4 linked regions of the Homo sapiens genome follow. The protein of the gene in region 2 interacts with the protein of the main gene of each other region in a pairwise test. Each region holds a gene or a part of one and is shown on either strand. Other genes may lie near its edges.

Evidence for each region. The genes of interacting proteins can lie anywhere in the genome.
Region 1: the proteins of SGTA (region 2) and CTSL interact in binary tests that used the Homo sapiens proteins (3 or more experiments, as listed by UniProt).
Region 3: the proteins of SGTA (region 2) and FXYD7 interact in binary tests that used the Homo sapiens proteins (3 or more experiments, as listed by UniProt).
Region 4: the proteins of SGTA (region 2) and PLAAT4 interact in binary tests that used the Homo sapiens proteins (3 or more experiments, as listed by UniProt).

Annotation. Positions count from the first base shown.
Region 1 is NC_000009.12:87,728,813-87,732,024, reverse strand, and holds the end of CTSL (procathepsin L isoform 1 preproprotein), read right to left. Parts: intron 2,453-3,212; coding exon 2,290-2,452; intron 1,645-2,289; coding exon 1,527-1,644; intron 1,018-1,526; coding exon 918-1,017; 3' UTR 556-917; downstream 1-555. UniProt on the Homo sapiens protein: Thiol protease important for the overall degradation of proteins in lysosomes. Plays a critical for normal cellular functions such as general protein turnover, antigen processing and bone remodeling.
Region 2 is NC_000019.10:2,754,093-2,756,983, forward strand, and holds the end of SGTA (small glutamine-rich tetratricopeptide repeat-containing protein alpha), read right to left. Parts: intron 1,842-2,891; 3' UTR 623-1,841; downstream 1-622. UniProt on the Homo sapiens protein: Co-chaperone that binds misfolded and hydrophobic patches-containing client proteins in the cytosol. Mediates their targeting to the endoplasmic reticulum but also regulates their sorting to the proteasome when targeting fails.
Region 3 is NC_000019.10:35,145,949-35,149,809, reverse strand, and holds part of FXYD7 (FXYD domain-containing ion transport regulator 7), read right to left. Parts: intron 1,117-3,861; coding exon 1,087-1,116; intron 1-1,086. UniProt on the Homo sapiens protein: Associates with and regulates the activity of the sodium/potassium-transporting ATPase (NKA) which catalyzes the hydrolysis of ATP coupled with the exchange of Na(+) and K(+) ions across the plasma membrane.
Region 4 is NC_000011.10:63,539,502-63,543,362, reverse strand, and holds part of PLAAT4 (phospholipase A and acyltransferase 4), read right to left. Parts: intron 3,848-3,861; coding exon 3,739-3,847; intron 1-3,738. UniProt on the Homo sapiens protein: Exhibits both phospholipase A1/2 and acyltransferase activities. Shows phospholipase A1 (PLA1) and A2 (PLA2), catalyzing the calcium-independent release of fatty acids from the sn-1 or sn-2 position of glycerophospholipids.

The sequences.
Region 1 (3,212 bases), on a different chromosome or scaffold from region 2:
AAATCAGGTATTTTCAGGTAGCTTGCTCTAAATAGGGCAACAGATTGTCATTTCTAGCCTCTCACTTGTCTTTTATTTTCTGAGGCCAGAGCACCACTTCTGAACCCCAGCCTCAAACCCTGAAGTTTATTCCTCATCCCTTGAGGACCCAAAAACAAACAGCCTTGGCAATGCACTAGTTCTTAACCCACCTTGACTGCAAAGTGTCCACAGGGCCTTCACCAGCAGTGGGCGAAGATGCTCCAGAAACAGGCTGAGACCTTTGCCCTGTAACTTGACTGAGATGCAACCACTTTGGGTGAAATAAACACGATCACTAAAGTCCTTTTCTAGTATTAAAATTATATATATGTATGTTCACTTTTCTAAAAAGTGAATATTTTTCTTTATTCAAACAATTTTCCTTTGTCCTCATAGATCATTTTCAAATTTTGCTGCAATCAAGGATTGGTTAAGACATAGCCACTGGGCAGCTGACATGAGATCTGTACATCTGTGACTAGAAGACCCAGAAGGCCACCCACTCTTCCTCCTAGTGAGCCACTGGCACAGCAGTTATGGCTTAGAGCCCAATTATGTTCTTTATTACACAAAAATTCAGTGCATCAAAAATAGAAAGAAGCCCCACCACTACATTTGAAATTAAATTTTATTTAAACAGGTAAAAATTTATACATCCTTTTAAAAACGAAAATGCAAAGTCAGTAAGTGAATCAATAATATAAACCTATTTATAGCAGTAATTAAAATAGAGGTAACATTTACCAGTGTGAAAATATCACAGAATTCAAATCACACTCGGATCTTCAATGATTCGAGTGTGTATCCGACACAGCGGGGGCTGGTAGACTGAAGATGAATTCCTCCCATGCATGCGCCATCCCCAGTCAAGTCCTTCCTCATCACCGTCCACCAGCTCACACAGTGGGGTAGCTGGCTGCTGAGGCAATTCCACAATGGTTTCTCCGGTCTTTGGCCATCTTTACGTAGCCACCCATGCCCCATTCTTCACCCCAGCTGAAAAAAGAGCAGGTTTTCCATTTCAGAGAAAGAATAAAGCCCAAAGGGTTATTAACAGGAACACCCAACTTAAACACTGTGCCAGAGGCCATAGACTTAACAGAAAGAATCAGGACAGGCAATGTTCCTGTTTATCCTTAAAAAATTCTTGACATAACCTGGACATAATTTCCATCCCAGCCTCCAAACTGTGACCTTTCACAGAACTACAGATCAGAGACAGGAAAACAATAGGATGTCTTTGCAGCCAGATATGCCTCAGAATTTAAAAACTGTTCAGATTTAGATACACCTTTATACAATGGAACAAATACTATATTCATACTCCCAAGATATTTGTGACAGTTTCTTACTTTTATAATCAAACATTAATATTATATGTTCAACTTAGACTTCTGGGGATTTCAGAAGTATGCCTAAGGGCATGTGGAACTGTATCCAAACACTGTTTGCAAATAAGTATTCTCTTTTGAATTTCAAATGTAAGTATTTCTGGCAATTTATACCTGTTCTTCACCAGCCAATATTTATTGTTATCTGATTCTGTGCTTTCAAATCCGTAGCCAACCACCAGCACACCATGATCCATGTCTTCACTGCTACAGTCTGGCTCAAAATAAATGCCTGGGATGGTAAAATGAGGGCTGGGGTGAGAAGCTCCAGAGGACACATGACAGTAACCCATCCTGTCACCCACAGGGAATGAGGCATCTCTGAATTCAGTGAAGTGACACACATTCCAGATAGTACTTAACAACAATAAGAAGGCCAGGGATTTAAGCTCTCATTTACAACTAGCAGAAATAGAAATCAGCATAAATCCTTCATTAAAAAAAAGCTTTCCTAGAGGAAAAAAAGACCCCTCTTTGTAAGCTTGTAATTCTACTCTAGGATATCAATCTAAAAAAATAGCACAGAACACTAAAATCCTTGAATCAAAAGGCTCTTTTCGGATTTAATAATAGAAGTAAAAATCTTTGGAAAAATTATAAAAATCCAACAATTGCAGAATATTTTAAGTATATTAAACTACACAGTAAATATAGCTATTTATAAAAAGTTATGAAGTACTTATATTCATGGAGATATACGCAACATAATGTCAAATGGAAACATCAGGTATAAATATTGCATGTACAGAATGAACAACTATGATGCTAAGCACCTAAATATCTACACTGAACTTTACTTGCAAACCAGAGTCTATCATGCTCGTATGTCATGATACTCTTTTTCTGCATCAATTTCTACAAAGAAAAATATGCTTACCTTCTTTATAGAACAGGAAGGACTCATGACCTGCATCAATAGCAACAGAAATGGGCCCCACAGTTGCAACTGCCTTCATCAGGGCCTTCTCCTGCTTAGGGATGTCCACAAAGCCGGTGTCATTAGCAACAGAATACTTGGGATTGTACTTACAGGATTCTTCCTTTCAAAGGTAAAGGGAAAAAAAAGACTTGATTACTGCTGTCCTCCTCCTGGAGAACATGAGTTAGAACCACAACACTCAGCAGTGTGCAGCTTAGTATTTCCAAGTCACCACTGTTATAAATCATCCCAGGAAGTGAAATGCTATTAGTTAATCTGAAACTGAAAATTGACTCCAGTCTCTTCAATGAGACCTCTGGGTTTACTTCCATAAGACATTTTTCACAATAGAGAAATGTGTATATTTAGAATGGCTTGTATATTCTTCACGTTACATAGAAGCAAGAACAGCTATATGTTACCCATCTAATCACAGGATTGTGCAAAGGCTAATAATTTATAATGACAGTACTGACAATTTGCAGATATATATTCTGCCATCTAATATGTGAACTTTTTTTTTTTTTTGGAGACAGGGTCTCATTCTGTCACTCAGACTGGAGAGTGCATTTGCACAACCACCTCCCACACTCAAGCAATCGCCCTACCTCAGCATAGCTGGGACCACAGACGCACACCACCACAGCCGGCTAATTTTCGTTGTATTTTTGATAGAGTCAAGGTTTCACCTTGTTGCCCAGGCTGGTCTCAAACTCCTGAGCTTAAGCCATCTGCCTGGCTCAGCCTCCTAAAGGGCTGGGATTACAGGCGTGAGCCACCCCACCCAGCCCTAATATATGAATTCCGAAAAAGGTATCTGTTATCTCTTAAAGTGTCCACCTTCCAAAAGCTGAGCTGGAATGATGACAAGGAGCTCCACT
Region 2 (2,891 bases):
CTAGAAAAGCAACAGACAAAGCCAGGTGCGGTGGCTCACGCCTGTAATCCCTGCACTTTGGAAGGCTGAGGCAAATCACCTGAGGTTGGGAGTTTGAGACCAGCCTGACCAACATGGAGAAACCTCGTCTCTACTACAAATACAAAAAATTAGCTGGGCGTGGTGGTGCATGCCTGTAATCCCAGCTACTTGGAAGGCTGACGCAGGAGAATCACTTGAACCCGGGAGGTGGAGGTTGAGGTGAGCCGAGATTGCGCCATTGCACTCCAGCCTGGGCATCTAGGGTGAAAGTCTCAAAAAAAAAAAAAAAGCAAAGCAAAGCAACAGACAATACGATCACTCTCTGCTGAGGACCGAGGCATCTCACCCCACCCTGGGGTGACCCTCTACACCGGGATGCAGCTGGGGACGGAGGCGGAGGGAAGGGAGACAGCAGAGGGTAGAGGCTGACTGTCCGAAACCTCCCATGACCCGTGACCCGTGACCCAAGAAGTGCGGCTCCGGCGTCGCGGGGATTCACTCACAAGCAGCCCAGCTGATCCACAAACTCCGCGTCGGGGGTTTTCTCGAGGTTTGGGGTTGGAGGGTATCGGTGGCGCCAAGGTCAACACGAAGACAGACAGAGGTCACAACGCCTATTTATTCCCCACACGTCACGCCCTGCACCCCGGGTGGGCTTGGCACACACCTCACCGCCATGAGCGGCTGCAGGGCCGCGGCGGCCCCCGTTCCTACTGCTACCTACGATACACGGTACTGCGCCTACCTCACAGACGGCCAGGAGCCAGGGAGCCCCAGGATGCTCCGACTGACAACCCTGCTGCTGGGACCACGGCGCCGTGGGCTCGTCTGCCACCCCCAGGCCTCAGGAACCCAGACAGGCTGCCTGCTGTCCGGCTCTCCGGCTGCTTTCCTGGTGGCTGTTTTAGGGCCAAGGTGGGTGGCACCTGAGGTGTCCCGTGGCCTCCACCCAGCACAGGAGGGGTAAGCTTCCCTGGGGGGCCCCGGGCCCATGAAACATCCAGGACAGAAGGACAGCAGGATGGGACACAGACAGAAACGGCCCAGCTGCCTTCCCTGTGCCCGGGGCTAAGGCGGCCGGGACAGAAGGTCATGATGTCGCCCCTGGCTCTCAGTCGCGAGGACCAGAAAATGAGGGTGGGAGGAGGGGAAACATGTCTGTCAACATGCCCAACTGGAGAAAAGTCACAGAAACTGGTCCTATGCACCCAGGACGGCTCCTGAGCCGCGGAGGCGTGGGGTGACCGCAGCCGTCTCTTAGGTGTCTGCCACTAAAGAGTTCCTCATGCAAACACACATGGCCCGCGGTGCCCAGGCCGCAGCTGGCAGTGAGCTCTTCCGAGCAGGCACAGGGCCGGGGTGGCCGGGAGGTCGACTCGGAAAGAGGCTTCTCACAGACGGGAGAGTTCCTGCAGACAGACCACGGGATGGGGGGCGGGGGCTGTAAAAGGCTTTGGAAGCCACACGATCCGCCACACGGCTGAACGTGAAACCTGCCACTTCTCTGAGAGCGGCCCGGGAGCACCCCAGGATTCTAGAAAACACTCAAGTGACCGAGCTTTCTGGGGGCTGGAAGGGAGGTCGCTGCTGGTCTGTGCTCAGCTTGCTGGCTCTCGTTTCAAGAAGGGTCTGGGGGCTGTAAGGGAGTTACAAAAAGGGAGTGGAGGAGGGCAGAGATAAAAGGGGAAAATCCATCTTGACATGCAGGTCCGAGGTCTCTCTCTTCCCCTCTCTCAGGCAGTCCAACAGGAGGAAGTGGCAGACAACCAGAAGGCTTCCTTCGGGTCGGCCAGGGAAGGACGCGGTCACACCGGGAGCAGCTGGAAGGGGACAGACATGAAGGCTGTCAGAGCGCAGGTGGGGACCAAGGCTGCACCACACACTCCAGGCAGCAGGAGAGGCCCAGAGTGGACAGCCAGGGGCCACAGCGGCTATTTCAACGAACGTCAGAGCCACAGCTGCACCAGAAGCGTTCCACACACTCGGGGCCACGTGTGGCTGGTGGCGCAGAGAACATCGCCATGACCTAGAAGGGTCTACAGTATGGTGGTACTTTGTGTATGAGGTTACGGTGGTAAAAAATCCACCTCAACTATTAAAAAAAGAAAAGGAAAAATAAATAAAAGCTTATTTAAAAAAAAAAGGGAAGACTGGAAGAAAAGGCGGCCAAAATATTAATGTTGGTGGCTCTGGGTGAGAAGATTAAGGTTGGGCTGAATGCACGGCTCACACTTTGGGAGGCCGAGGCGGGAGGATCGCTTGAGCCCAGGAGGTTGAGGCTGCAGTGAGACGTGACTGCACCACTGCCCTCCAGCCGGGGGGACAGAGCAGGACGGTCTCAAAAAAAAAAAAAAAAGATTAAGATTGTTCTTGCTGCTTTTTAACATTTTTGTATTTTAAATTTGTCTACAGTAATTATGGTTTAAAAATGAAAGAGAGTGTATATGAGGAGGGGACAACGACAAAATGAAGAGGCCACATGGGAGCAGAATGGAAACACCTCTGGGGAGGCCCGGAGCCTCCCGCCCCCAGGGAGCCGGCGTCTGCTGGAGACAGACAGGACTGAACTCAGGGGAGCCTCCCACCCCTGGGAAGCCGGTGTCTGCTGGAGACGGACAGGACTGAACTCAGGGGCCCCTGGGGAAGGAAACCAAGCCAGCCACGGGCCCCTGGAACCCATGGGGGACACTGAGTGTATTTTTAAACAACTGTAAGTGCAACACCTGCTCACAGTGAGAAAAGGACAAAAAATCCCTCACAAAATGCAGGCAGAACGCTCGGGCGCAGTCAAAGGCAGGTACCCGGCTTGTCCTTTCCACCACTCGATGACCTCGCCCCCACCCCCGAGGTGGCAGCCCCGACACTGCAGA
Region 3 (3,861 bases), about 32 Mb from region 2:
AATATTCTTGTCTAATATATAATTTTCATATTTTGTTTTCTTGAGTATCTGTCCCTTTCCCATTGAGTGGAAGGTCCAGGAGGAGGGCAGGAATTCTTGCATTCTTGAATTCTTGTCTGTGTGGTTCATTGCAGTGTCTCCAGCTGCTTGGAACATTGCCAGAAATAGAGCCTGTGCCCGCTAAGTATTTGTTGAGATATGAATTTATGGAGCACTCACTCTGTACCAGTAGTGGTCCAGGCCTCTACCAGCAAGGAGTTGACTTTCGTATTGTGATAAAACATTAAAGAAACAATCCCCCTCAAAAACAAGTCATGCGACACCAGCTGAGTATGGTGTGGCTCTTCCTTGCCAGGGAGTCAGGAGGGCCTATCCCAGTAGAGTAGTCTATGTTTGATCTGAGGCCTGAATAAGGGGGAGCCTTAGCCGGTCGTGTACAAAGGAGAAGCATTACTGCAGAATCATAGCACACGCAAAGGTCCTGAGATGGGAGAGAAATTGACACCTAGGGAAAAAGTATGAATGAGCAAAGGGGTGGGGTGGGGGCAAGAGGAGGGTGTTCAGAGGGGAAACTGGAGCCCGATCTACCAGGCCTGGGGTAGCTTATTTGAGCTTCAGTGCCATGGAGGAGATTTAATGCCACCAGTCAGGTATCTTTCCCACAGTCCTCATAGGTGGGAACTATTACTATCCCTTGTTTACAGAAGGGCCCAGAGAGGCAAAGTTGCTTGCCCAAGGCCATACAGCTAGTGAGTGGATAAGGCAGGATTCAAATCCAGGCAGCCTGGGCTCAGAGTCATTGCTTCTAAGGTTTTCCTTCATCTGCTTCTCTGGCGACACCAAGGCACCAGCCCAGATCCCGGTGAGACCTGAAGGGGGCTCAGAGAGAGTGTGAGGCATCCCCACTCCCCCATCTGGTTCTGCCCTCCATGAACTCAGCTGATGTGAACCACACCCACATATATGGTCCCGTGGCCAGTGGCCCAGCACGTATCGTGTGGCCACAGCTGAAGCCATGTCCGGAGTGATCTGTGAGCACCTGCAGCTACTCCCCAGTCCAGCCCTATCCCCAAATCCAACACTCACCATAGTAAAATGGGTCAGGTTCCTCAGGAGCTGAGGGAAAGAAGCAGAGAAAAAGAGAAAGAAAAAAAAAACTTAACAGTGTATTTCTTAATATTTTTTAGGATCCAGATGGAGCCACTGGCCTAATCATTTCTTTGTGGAAGTCAGATAGAGACCCCTTGGTTTGGATGATGTGGCCTCATGGCAGGCCGCAAGGCTGGAAGAGCATAGCTCAAGCTGGATTCCAGCCCCTACTCACTCCATCAGTCAGCACCATCCTCTATGCAGTGTACAATCTTCTCAAACTACATGGCAGTCCTGGTTCTGGACCCCTATGGAGGTCTGATGCAAGCTATGGACTCATTCCCTGAAAAACACAGACACACTCCCACTTGCACATGATGTCATGAGGTTAAAACAGACCCCATTTCCACTGGTGAACCAATGAATGTCTCAGCTTCCCCTGAATACTCCCTAAAACTTCTCAGTCACCTGAGAGCTCCGACAGGCACCTGCTGCTACTGCTGACATCCACTCACTCCTGATACTCCATCCAGTACAGGGAAGCTGTGCTGATTCATACCCCACATTACTTATTTCTTTTTCTTTCCTCCCTCCCTCCCTCCCTCCCCTCTTTCTTTCTCTCTCTCTTTCTTTCTTTCTTTCTTTCTTTCTTTCTTTCTTTCTTTCTTTCTTTCTTTCTTTCTTTCTTTCTTTCCTTCTTTCTTCTTTCTTTCCTTCTTTCTTTTTTTGAGACAGGGCCTTGCCCTGTCACCCAGGCTGGAGTGCAGTGGCGCGATCTCAGCTCACTACAACCTCCATCTCCCAGGTTCAAGCAATTCTCCTGCCTCAGCCTCCCAAGGACCGGGACTATAGGTGTGCACTACCACTGCTGGCTAATTTTTGTATTTTTAGTACAGACGGGATTTCACCATGTTGGCTGGGCTGGTCTCAAACTCCTGACCTCCGATGATCTGCCCGCCTCAGCCTCCCATAGTGCTGGGATTACAGATGTGAGCCACCATGCCTGGCCCATTATTACTTATTTCTAAGGCACCATCAAGTTTAAGATTCAAAATTGAGTTTGTAATAGTTTTCCCTGTGTGTGTGTGTATGTGTAAATATGTTTGGAACTCTACCACGTGAAATGTCCCCATCCATTAGAAGACACATAATGATTTCAGAAATGTTCACATGTGGATAAAATGTGTGTGTGTCTCTGGATTCACTTTTCTCCACTTCCCACCTTCCTGGACCCTAATCATGTTCCCCTGCAGGAGAGCTCAGAACATCCTTCCCATTCAACAAGTTCATCCTGATGGTTCTCGAATGCCTCTGACAGTTCTTATTATATTTGGCCTTCCCTAGAGCAGAATTTGGCAGCAGACTGTCTGCCACATGGGGAGAGGGTGAGGGGTGCCAGGGTGATGCCTGATGTCGTTGGTGTTCTCCTTCCCCCTTCCAGGCTCAGATGGATGGCTCCCTGGAGGTTGGGTAGGGCCATGTGACTAATTCTGGCCAAGGAACGGTGAGTAGAAGTGCATTGTCACTTCCAGGCTGGGGCATTTAAACATTCAGGAACATTCAGGCCTCCAGGCCAAAGCTCTGTTTCACTTCTAGCCTGGTGGCCTGAATGTTCACAGTGGTGACTGCTCTAGTTTTCTTTGGTGACTGGTCAACCTGTGATGGACGTATACGTGAACCTGGTTGTCATAAGCCCCTGAGACTTTTGGTACTATTTGTTACCACAGCATACTCTAGCTGAAACTGATTGATAGAGGTGGCCCCAAAGCAACACCTGTTTGTTACCACAGCATGCTGTAGCCGAAACTGACTGATAGAGGTGGCCCCAAAGCAAGACCACGGTTCACACAATGTGTAAGTTTACCCTTCCCAGGTCTCTGTCTAGTCTTCAAAGAGGATGGCTTAGGTTGGTGCTGAGGTATCTTTACCACCTTCCAACCCTTGTTAATCTCCCCCCTTTACCTAAGAGAAAACAGGCCTTGGGCTCCAAGTCTTCAGCAGGCAATAAAATCTAGGCAGAATTTTGTGGCATTATTTGGTTTTCTCCTTTATTTATTGATGTAACCAGCAGTGGGTAGCCCTGACTCCATTCCAGCCTCCCTGCTAAGCATCTGACAGATATCAGCGCATTTACTCTTAATCTTCATAGCAACTCTTTCATATGGGTGCGATCTTCATCCCCATTTCCTGGAAGGGGGACACCAGACCCAGAAAAGCGAAATCACCTGCTTCAGATTGCTCTTATGCTGCCTTCAACTTAAGGCAAAAAGAAGATGAATTTTCCAGCTGGGCACAGTGATTCATGCCTGTAATCCCAGCACTTTGGGAATACAAGGTGGGCGGATCACGAGGTCAGGAGTTTGAGACCAGCCTGGCCAATATGGTGAAACCCCATCTGTACTAACAATACAAAAATTAGCTGGGTGTGGTGGTGTGCCGCTGCTAGTCCCAGCTACTTGGGAGGCTGAGGCAGAAGAATTGCTTGAACCCGGGAGGCAGAGGTTGCAGTAAGCCAAGATCGTGCCACTGCACTCCAGCCTGGATGACAGAGCGAGACTCTGTCTCAAAAAAAAAAAGAAGATTAATTTTCCAGTTGTGATGGTGCTATAAAATAAAGCTCGTTGTTTTCAAAAGCTAATCCTGGGTTGGGCATGGTGGCCCACGCCTGTCATCCTAAGCACTTTGGGAAGCCAAAGTGGGTGAATTGCTTGAGCCCAGAAGTTTGAGACCAGGCTGGGAAACATAGCAAAAGCAGTCTCTATGAAAAATACA
Region 4 (3,861 bases), on a different chromosome or scaffold from region 2:
GATCCCTTGCATGTGCAGTTCCCAATGGGGTTTGCACTCCTATGAGAATCTAATGCTACTACTGATCTGACAAGAGGCGGAGCTCAGGCAGAATGCTCACTCACCTGCCTCTCAGCTCACCTATTGTGTGGCCCGATTCCTAACAGGCCACACACAGCCCAGGGTTGGGGACCCCTGCTTTAACTGATGCATTGATTTGATAAAGTATTTTACAAGCCTGATAATGTTATAACCCTATTTATTCAGGTCAGATTTATGCCAACTTTGCTGAGAATATGGAGGGTATAGATGAGTGAACATCAACAAACATAACTTCTACCGTGGTTAAGAATTTTACTTAAGAAAAGTATTGAAGTTCAAATCCAGGTAGTATTACATTTGAAATTTTTATAAGGGTTATTAATTTAATAAAATTCATTATCAGGTTTCCCCTATAAGCTTTCTCCTAGGTTAGTTTTCCACAAGCATTGTTTTACATACACTGTAATCAGGATAACACAAGCTTAGTGTTAGATCTTGTAGGAAACCAAGATTAGAAGCATTAGAAATGTGCAGAATTTAAGAAATTATGTTTTGTGGTAATCTGTGGCCAACGATGATAGAACCTAGTGCAATTGTAAAGTGAAATTCAAGGAGAAGGAATGAGGAGTTAGGCAAGCAGCACACTTGAATATTAGTGAAGGAGAGGAGCTGTGAGTCAGGAATCAGAGAGACCTGCTAAAACCAGACAGATATAAACACCAAAGACGGAAGCCAAATAGGTAGCCAAAAATCCAGATATTTGAGAAGCAGGAAATTTACAGCAACCAAAGAAATAGGGCAAGATAGGCAGGTGAACACACATGATACCTCAATTGACAATCTTCCTCCTACCAAGCCAGACACGTTGTAAATGCTGCTTCCCATTGGAGCCCAGAAAAAAGGAAAGTTTAGGCTTTCTGTGTCCTATGTGTGGAAGCAGGGAATTGGATTGAAGACTTTCATAGTTGTAAAATAAAGGCAAATCCTGAGGAACTCACTGATAGAGATGTGAAATGACAGTACGGAAGAAAACAGAATAACTATATAAATATATTAGTCTAGGGCCACTTAATTTAGAGGAAGAAAAAAAATCACCCCATCCACAGAAATAGTTTGATAAACAGGTCACTAAATAATTAGCATTTATAAAGATTCTTAGTTATCAAGGGCTGCATTGTATTTTATATACTCAGTTTTATAAGGCGATACTTTTAAATAAGCATTTTAATGAAAATGGTTAAACTGAAAATAATTTTGGTCCTTAAAAGGAGTCAGGAGCTTTTATATATAAGGTACATATTTTAAAAGAATACCTCCTTTATAACAGGGTTTTACAGACACTACTGTAATTTATAATCATTGTTTTTTACTTTTGGGTTCACCTAGATCGTATGAGTTGGTATGATACTTCCAGAACAAAATTATTCATAATGTGTTTTTTGTAATTTATGATTTTTAAGTAAGCTTGACTTATAAATTGACATTGTAATTTTGTACATAATTGGATATATGTGCTAAAATTTAACATTTAGATTTATTTAATTGTAGAAAATACAAATGTAAAACTTATACATGGAAAGAACTGTATGCAGTTGACTTTACCATGGAAATTGGAGGGAAACAGTTTTAGATCAATTTTCTTTCAAAATTTTCTTTATTGTAAAGTATGCAAAATATATATTCATACCATTTATTAAATCAGAATGTTTATGCAAAAAAAAAAAAAAGACTGCAGTGAGCTGTAATCACATCACTGTACACCAGCCTGGATGGCAGAGTAAGACACTGTCTCAGAGGAAAAAAAAAAAAAAAAAGGAAAGAGAGAAAAATTGTCTTTAAAAAGCCTCTTTACGGCTGAGCGCGGTGGCTCATGCCTGTAATCCCAGCACTTTGGGAGGCCGAGGCTGGTGGATCACGAGGTCAGGAGATCGAGACTATCCTGGCCAACATGGTGAAACCCCATGTCTACTAAAATACAAAAAACTAGCTGGCTGTGGTGGCATGCGCCTGTAGCCTCAGCTATTCGGGAGGCTGATGCAGGGGAATCGCTTGAAACTGGGAGGCGGAGGTTGCAGTGAGCTGAGATTGCACCACTGTACTCCATCCCGGTGACAGAGCAAGACTCTGTCTTAAAAAAAAAAAAAAAGCCTCTTTACACACTGCAAGTTAGGCACAAAAAGGACCATGTGTCTTCATTGCCATGCTTTGTCTTACAAGGTCCCTGAGGATCATCTGGATTAAGTGGGCTTGATTTACTATTTTCCATCAATTCAGACATTTTTACAATCCTGCCTGGGAGATGATGGCTTGGAGAAAACTGATAAGATGCAAATGTCTTGCCCTGATAGTGATGGGAATGGTTTTTGTCCAGTGACAATGTAAATGCTTGGTGAAAAGAGAACATGAGAAGTTATGTAGTGGCACTGCCCTAGAGGATATGAACTTGCCTGCACCTACCTAATTTGGCAGTCTCATTGTCTCATTTCTGCATTTTTGTTGTTGTTTTTTGAGACAATGTCTTCCTCTGTCTCCTAGGCTGGAGTGCAGTGGCACTGTCTCAGGATCTCGGCTCACTGCAACCTCCGTCTCCCAGGTTCAAGCAATTCTCCTGCCTCAGCCTCCTGAGTAGCTGGGATTACAGATGCCTGCCACCACCCCCAGCTAATTTTTGTATTTTTAATAGAGACGGGGTTTCACCATGTTGGCCAGGCTCGTCTTGAACTCCTGACCTCAAGTGATCCGTCCGCCTTGGCCTCCCAAAGTGCTGGGATTATAGGAGTGAGCCACTGTGCCTGGCCTCTGTGTTCGTTTTTTCCCCTTTCATTGGCTATCCATACATACGTTTCCTTCATTCTGCTTTTAACTGGGTATGTCATATTTCTGCTTCTGTTATTAATGAGTTAAATAAAACATTGGTATTGCTTACTGTGTATTTGTATGAGAATTTTAAAAAAATGTATAAACCTGTGAGAATTGCTCCCAGTAAGGAATCTTAAGTATATAATATCAAGACACCTTGTTGTGTGAAAACATATGAGGCAAAGGATCTGGCACGGAGAAACATTGTTCCTTTTGAGAAACTTTCTTCTTTAAGACCTAAGAAACCTGGCTGGTTTAAGTCGTATGAGATTCTGCATGCCAAGGTAACTGACTTTGAGCTGGAGAGATCCCAATGCTGAAGCAGCCCAGCTTCGCTGCGGGAGGCAACGGTCTCTTCTTCCGTTCTGCCAGGACCTATGGAATGCACTGTGTCTACTTCATGGGACATATGTGTGTGCAATCTCATCAAGCATCCTCTAAGAAGAATGTGTCTCCTAACTCAAGTTTCCCTTGCTTAACTGTCTTTCAGTGGCTCTCATTGACTTATTTTTTTATTTTTTGAGATCAAGTTTTGCTCTTGTTGCCCAGGCTAGAGTGCAATGGCACGATCTCGGCTCACTGCAACCTCTGCCTCCGGGGATCAAGTGATTCTCCTGCCTCAGCCTCCTGAGTAGCTGGGATTACAGGTGTGTGCCACCACACCTGGCTAATTTTGTATTTTTAGTAGAGATGGGGTTTCTCCATGTTGGTCAGTCTGGTCTTGAACTCCTGACCTCAGGTAATCTGCCCACCTCGGCCTCTCAAAGTGCTGGGATTACAGGCATGAGCCACCGTGCCCGGCCCTCTCATTATCCTTTTAACAAATATTTTGAAAATTATATATTCATCAGTCCTTACTTGGAGGAGCCAGATGGATCACGTAGCCATCTCCTATATACAGGGCCCAGTGCTCATAGCCAAGGCGGAAAATCTCAATCAGGTCTCCAGGTTTGGGCTCTTGGTGTGGCTGCAACAGAAAAG